2 linked regions of the Homo sapiens genome follow. The protein of the gene in region 1 purifies or fractionates together with the protein of each later gene. This does not show direct contact. Each region holds a gene or a part of one and is shown on either strand. Other genes may lie near its edges.

Evidence for each region. The genes of interacting proteins can lie anywhere in the genome.
Region 2: the proteins of SETD4 (region 1) and CORO7 purify together in Homo sapiens (affinity purification with mass spectrometry; one large-scale study listed by BioGRID and IntAct). This does not show direct contact.

The regions. Positions count from the first base shown.
Region 1 is NC_000021.9:36,047,027-36,050,526, forward strand, and holds part of SETD4 (SET domain-containing protein 4), read right to left. Parts: intron 1,371-3,500; coding exon 1,282-1,370; intron 1-1,281. UniProt on the Homo sapiens protein: Protein-lysine N-methyltransferase that methylates both histones and non-histone proteins. Via its catalytic activity, regulates many processes, including cell proliferation, cell differentiation, inflammatory response and apoptosis.
Region 2 is NC_000016.10:4,361,097-4,364,596, forward strand, and holds part of CORO7 (coronin-7), read right to left. Parts: intron 3,318-3,500; coding exon 3,180-3,317; intron 1,643-3,179; coding exon 1,516-1,642; intron 1,065-1,515; coding exon 889-1,064; intron 374-888; coding exon 265-373; intron 153-264; coding exon 66-152; intron 1-65. Other genes in the region: CORO7-PAM16 protein, read right to left, coding at 66-152, 265-373, 889-1,064, 1,516-1,642, 3,180-3,317. UniProt on the Homo sapiens protein: F-actin regulator involved in anterograde Golgi to endosome transport: upon ubiquitination via 'Lys-33'-linked ubiquitin chains by the BCR(KLHL20) E3 ubiquitin ligase complex, interacts with EPS15 and localizes to the trans-Golgi network, where it promotes actin polymerization, thereby facilitating post-Golgi trafficking.

The sequences.
Region 1 (3,500 bases):
GGGTGGATCACTTGAGGCCAGGAGTTTGAGACCAGCCTGACCAACATGGAGAAACCCCATCTCTACTAAAAATACAAAATTAGCAGGGCATGGTGGCGCACACCTGTAATCCCAGCTATTTGGGAGGCTGAGGCATGAGAACTGCTTGAACCCGGAAGGTGGAGGTTGCAGGGAGCCAAGATCACGCCACTGCACTTCAGCCTAGGCAACACAGCAAGACCTTGTCTCAAAAAAGAAAGAAAAAAACGGTATACTCTTTCAACCCTTGTATTTAGAAATCCCTTCCACTGCGGGTCGCTCTCACTCTGTCCTCAAAGATGCCCCAAAACAAAGGCCCAGCAGAACGTGTGCCAGAAAACAGTTCTTCCCCATCAGCCTCCTCTCTTCTATACCTAAATAAAACTAATTCTTTCACAAAATTAACAGCTCTTCAAAGTTCAAGGAAAACTGAAGTACAATAACGGTAGAAATAAGAGAGAGTAACTTACATTTGTCAAGAGCTACTATGATGGAAGAGAAGAGGCTACTATGAGCCAAGGCACTCAGCTGTGATTTACATATATTATCCCATTTAATTTTTATTTCTTAGTCAGTGATGGATCGGGATATCATACCCACACTCCAGGAAGCCTATTAAAAACCTTAGAAATGCCATTTACAGTGAATTAAGAACAAACTTTCTGGCCGGGCACGGTGGCTCACACCTGTAATCCCAGCACTTTGGGAGGCTGAGGCGAGTGGATCACAAGGTCAGGAGCTCAAGACGAGCCTGGCCAAAATGGTGAAACCCTGTCTCTACTAAAAATACAAAAAAAAAAAAAAAAAAAAAATTAGCTGGGCGTGGTGGCAGGCACCTGTAATCCCAGCTACTTGGGAGGCTGAGGCACGAGAATCACTTGAACCTGGGAGGCAGTGGTTGCAATAAGCCAAGATCACGACATTGCACTCCAGCCTGGCAACAGGTGAGACTCCATCTCAAGCAAGAGAGAGAGAAAGAGAGAGAGAGAGACAAGGAAGGAAGGAAGGAAGAGAGGGAGGGAGGGAGGGAAGGAGGGAAGGAGGGAGGGAGGGAGGGAGGAAGGCAGGCAGGCAGGCAGGCAGGAAGGCAGGGAGGGAGGGCAAACTTTCTAGAATGGAGTAAACTTTTCACATCATTCAGGTTATTTATCAGCTCTACAAGGGACTGGGTTCTAATGAATTGTGTCTCAAGTGACATATTTGCCATTGACAGACCTTAAGGAGAAGCACTTGCACCAGGTAAGCAAGTGTGTGGTCACTTACTTAGTAATGTATGCCCCTAAGTAGCTTCGAATCACTGTGTCCGTGGTGAGCAGGCAACTCTCAGGCAACGAAATAATCATCTGTCCCTCCTGGCCAAAAGGAAAGTAAAGTTGAGGACGCCTATGCTTTGGGAAGGACCCATGAGTATGAGTCTTACAAAGTCGTTGATCCCACAATCACCTACCAGTAACCCACTGTAACTCAACCAAAAGCCACCAATGAGCCTACCAATGGAGTCGCTCCCAACTCTGCGAGTCAGCAGATGCACACGAGGCTGCTCCAAGGCGAGGCCCCACAGCCCCAACAAAAATGAAAGGTCAATTATGTGACTGACACCCACAAGCAGTCAACCCTTCACCAGAATGAGTGGTGGAAACATGCTGACAATTCAAATTATACTGTTTCTTCACTTTTTTTTTTTTTTTTTGAGATGGAGTTTTGCTCTTGTCTCCCAGGCTAGAGTGCAATGGCGTGATCTCAGCTCACTGCAACCTCCACCTCCCAGGTTCAAGCGATTCTCCTGCCTCAGCCTCCCAAGCAGCTGGGATTACAGGCACCCATCACCATGATGGTGCCTAATTTTTGTATTTTTAGTAGAGACAGGGTTTCACCTATTTCTTCACTTTCTTATGCCAGGAAATAGTGCTACCAATAGTAAACAGACAGAAACTACCCCCAAAAAATTGTATCCAGTGAAATCCAAGTGGCCAGGTGATGGTCTGCTCTCTACATAACCCACGCTTATGAGCTAAAGAAAGGCCAGCATGCCCAACACAGTAAGCGTCGAACTCTACCACTTGCAAGAGTATCGTTTTCAGTGTCTCCCACGGAGATAGAACCATGGAAAGAAAAATTAGATGTAAAGTAATAGAAAACAGTTTAAATAAACACTGCATGAAGAAGCCAGATGTAAGACTCTCCTTTAATTCTAACTGGCATCTAAGTTGGTTAAAAATCTCAGCCAAGGCCAGGCGCGGTGGCTCATGCCTGTCATCCCAGCACTTTGGGAGGCTGAGGCAGGTGGATCGCTTGAGGTCAGGAGTTCAAGACCAGCCTGACCAACATGATGAAACCACATCTCTACTAAAAATACAAAAATTAGCTGGCCATGGTGGTGCACACCTGTCATCCCAGCTACTCGGGAGGCTGAGGCAGGAGAATCACTTGAACTCGAGAGGCAGAGGTGGCAGTGAGCCGAGATTGCGCCACTGTACTCTAGCCTGGGCGACAGAACGTGACTCCGTCTCAAAAAAGAAAAAAAAAATCTCAGCCAAAAAATCTTCCGGGATCAATTTCTGGTTTCCTCATCTGTAAAGCAAGATTAAGCTGGATGATCACTATGGTCACTTCCCATTCCAACATCCTATGATCTTTTGGTTTGAAAATATTTGGGTAAATCTCTTTATCATCAAAATGCAAACTGTACACTTCACTGTGCATTTCACTATATGTAAAATATGTCTCAATTTTCAAAAACTTTTGATAAAACAACCATATTTGAATGTACATGTGAAACAACTGCCAATTATTTCATGACCTAAACAAAAACTACCTGTAGTTACTGCTGCATACATGACATTTCTCATCCCCAAATTCTGCTACAGAATAAAGTCAATTACACCTTCCTCCAAAAACAAAAATATTGTACAACAATATGAATGTACTTAATACTACTGAACTTCAAAATGGTTAAGATGGTAAGTTTTATGTTAGATGAGCTTCCGGGTTTATGGATTCGTGGGCTGCTTCCACCTGCTAGGAGGGTGGTGCACTCTAACTCGGGGACAGAAGCCCCTGTGCTCAGGACTCTTGCAGACCTCTATATCTGGCTGTTCATCTTCCATAATCAACTGGTAGATGTTACATCCAAGAGGAAACAATCCAGGCAAGGAAGCACAAGCTGATCAAGATCTGTAGTTACGTGGCTGCCAAGTTGTGGTTTTTGATAGATTGTCCCATCAGGGAAGACTATCCTCAAACAGAGATTTTACGAGCATTAAAGGCCAAATGTTGTGAGGAGGAACTGGACTTTAGGGCTGTGGTGATGGATGAGGTGGTGCTGACAATGGAGAAAGGAAACTTGGGTCTGCGGATCAATGGAGAGCTAATCACTGCCTACCCACAAGTGGTGGTAGTCAGAGTACCAACCCCTTGGGTGCAAAGTGATAGTGACATCACTGTTTTGCGCCATCTAGAGAAGATGGGATGCCAGTTAATGA
Region 2 (3,500 bases), on another chromosome or scaffold:
CAGGGGTGATCAGGAGCCCTTGGGAGACACTGGCCACCCCAGCCCCATTCCTGAGCCTGCCTGACCTGTGAGCACAGTCTCTGGCGTGGTGAGCACCTCTTCCAGGCCCTCTGCGGGTACCCGCCACAGTCGGATCCTGGCGTCCTCACCAGCTGCAGAGGACAGACAGGGGCTCATCATTGCTGAGCCCAAGACCTCTGGGCTCCCCAGCCCCTATCCGGGACCCAGGACCCTCCCTCAAGCCCAGGCACCCAGCCTCCTTACCCACAGCGAGGCGATGGGGGTCAAAGGGGTCCCAGGCCAGATCAGTCACAGCTGCCCCATTCTGCAGCGTGGGCAGTGCCGTGTCGGGCAGGCGGCCAGGCTTCCGTAGCTGTGGGAGGTGCCCCCACCCCGAGGCCCATCAGTACCAGGCAGAAAAGCCAGTCCCCAGGGGCTGCGGGCAAGCAGCATGTCTGGGAGCCCACCCTCTGCAGCAGAGGCTCCCACCGCTGGGTGACCCAAGCTCTCTGCCCTGACCACCTTGCGCTCTGAGCCCCAAGTGCCAACCACAAGGCCCCAGAGAGTGAGGGGGCAGCAGCGTGAACTGGCGGGAAAAGCTCCGGCTTAGGGCTCAGGTGGCCGGGCTTCGGATCCCAGCTCCACCACTTACACAGCTGTGTGACCCGGGCAGGTCACTAAACCTCTCTGTGCCTCTTCTCCCTCATCTGTAAAATGGGGATAAAAGTGGCAGGCCCCATGGCAGGTGGCTGGGAGGATCACAGGACAGGCGGGCAGGAGCCTGACACAAGGTTTGTGCTCCCTGTGTTGTGTGGGTAGCTAAGGCCCTCCGCGTCTTTGCCACAGGCAGGGAACTGAGGGGCAGCCCTGGTGGGGTGGGGCCCTCACCTCAAGCACAGCCACCTGTCCCCCGCTGCTGAGCAGCGGCACGGCCACACGCAGCTTGTTGGCACAGAAGCCGTCACTCTCACCAGGTGTGGTGAGGTTGAGCCCCTTGAGGTTGGTGATGTGGCTGTCTCGGTGCAGGACAGTGCCCTGAGCATGGCGGAACTTGGAACTGGGGCCTGGCAGGTGGCAGGGACATGGAACCACGTGTGAGGATGCCGTCCCCGCCCGCCCTGCACTCTTTGAGTCCCGGCTGCCCACTCCCCTCACCCCAGGTGGATGTACAGCATGGACCTAGGCCCAGGCCTTTGCTAATCCAGTGGATGCAACTCGCCCAGGAATAATGTCTGGAATGATATACCCTGTTCCATGGTGGCTCGGGGAATCTTGGTGGAGCCCAGGGCTTTGGCTGCTCAGAAGCTGGTGGCCCCAGCCGCCCTCCTATTTTGCAGGTGAGACTCAGCCACCACACCCCAGCCCCCAGGACAAATGACCCTGCCAGTGAGTCTGGGTGAGGGGGGTGCCCTGCATGAGGCCTGTGCTCAGCAGTAGGGTACACAGGAGGATGACGGGGAGTGGGGCAGACAGGGCTCCTGCGGTAGGGGTGAGCTCCCCGTCCTGCCTCCTTACCCAGCAGGCTCTGCAGCGACCTCAAACTGGGGCTGGTCCCGATGCCACTGGTGCTGGAGAGTGAGGGCCCCAGGCTGGAGGGCGTGGAGGGCGAGGTCAGCGAACTGGGAGGGGAAGAGAAACCCTCCTGGGGAGGGGCATGGGGTCAGCCAGCCTGCTCCTAGGTGTACTGGCCAAAAGGAGGGGGTGCCAGCGGACTCCAGGGTCACCACTCTGGGCCCCCTGCGGACTGGAGGAGCCCCCACTGTGGGCATGCGACAGGAGCGGCGGGGGGCACGGGCATAAACGCAGACACACAGGGAAGCAGCCGAGCTTCAGACCGCGGGGACAGCAAGTGGCAGCTGCTGGCTCCCAGCCCTGCAGGAGGGTGTGCCCAGTGGGTTAGATCTGCCAGTATTTTAAGAGAAGCCAGAAATCTAGATCTGTATGAAAATTCTTGCTTTTTAAGTGTTTGCCCAATTTAGAAAGCACTGTGCAAGTTCCTTCTTTATGCTCCACGTGTTTCTCTGTCTCTGTTACACTTGACAAAGAAGGTTGGGGCCAGGCGTGGTGGCTCAAGGCTGTAATCCCAGCAGTTTGGGAGGCCGAGGAGGGCAGATCACGAGGTCAGGAGTTCAAGGCCAGCATGGCCAACATGGTGAAGCCTGACTCTACTAAAAAAAATATAAAAATTGGCCAGGCGCGGTGGCTCACGCCTGTAATCCCAGCACTTTGGGAGGCCCAGGCGGGTGGATCATGAGGTTAGGAGTTCAAGACCAGCCTGGCCAACATGGTGAAAACCCGTCTCTACTAAAGATACTAAAGATACCAATTAGCCAGGCGTGGTGGTGCGCGCCTGTAATCCCAGCACTTTGGGAGGCCCAGGCAGGTGGATCATGAGGTTAGGAGTTTAAGACCAGCCTGGCCAACATGGTGAAAACCCATCTCTACTAAAGATACTAAAGATACAAATTAGCCAGGCGTGGTGGCGCACGCCTGTAATCCCAGCTACTCAGGAGGCTCAGGCAGGAGAATTGCTTGAAACTGGGAGGCGGAGGTTGCAGTGAGCCGAGATCGCACCATTGCACTCCAGCCTAGACGACAGGGCGAGACTCATCTCAAAAACAAAAACAAAAACAAAAATTAGGCCAGGTGCAGTGGCTCATGATTGTAATCCCAGCACTTTGGGAGGCCGAGGCGGGTGGATCACCTGAGGTCAGGAGTTCGAGACCAGCCTGACCAACATGGTGAAACCCCATGTCTACTAAAAATACAAAAATTAGCCAGGCATGGTGGCGGGTGCCTGTAATCTCACCTACTCGGGAGGCTGAGGCAGGAGAATCACTTGAACCCAAGAGGCGGAGATTGCAGTGAGCCGAGATCACACCATTGTACTCTAGCCTGGGCAATAAGAGCGAAACTCTGTCTCAAAAAATAAATTAAAATATAGTCGGCCATGGTGGCACATGCCTGTAATCCCAGCTACTCGGGAGGCTGAGGCAGGAGAATCGCTTGAACCTAGGAAGAGGAGGTTGCAGTGAGCCGAGGTTGCGCCACTGCACTCTAGCTTGGGTGACAGAGTGAGACACTGTCTCAAAAAAAAAAAAAGGCCGTTCAGCCGGTGAACACTCAGGGCAGCCACTGCAGTGTCGCTGAGGGAGGATGGGGGCGGCCCTGGTACTTACGCTTGCGTCTGCATCACCCACGGGTGTCTCCATCACCGCAGGCTGGGCTGTGTCAGGGAGGGGCTCCGCAGGGGGCACCAGACAGGAAGTGAAGCTCGGGTGGGGCCGGCAGGCGGGGTTGAGGCTGACCTTCTGCACCTGCATGGAGGCCGGCAGTGGGGAGATGGGGGCATGGGCTGCCCGGTCAGGAGGGCCCCCATGGGAGGGTCAACTGGGTAGGGATGGGGGGCACCCAGCAGGCCAGACTGAGTTGGCACACAGCCACACGGGGCTACCAGGGACTCGGGGAGGCTGGGAGAGGTGAGCCAGCCCTGGTCCTAC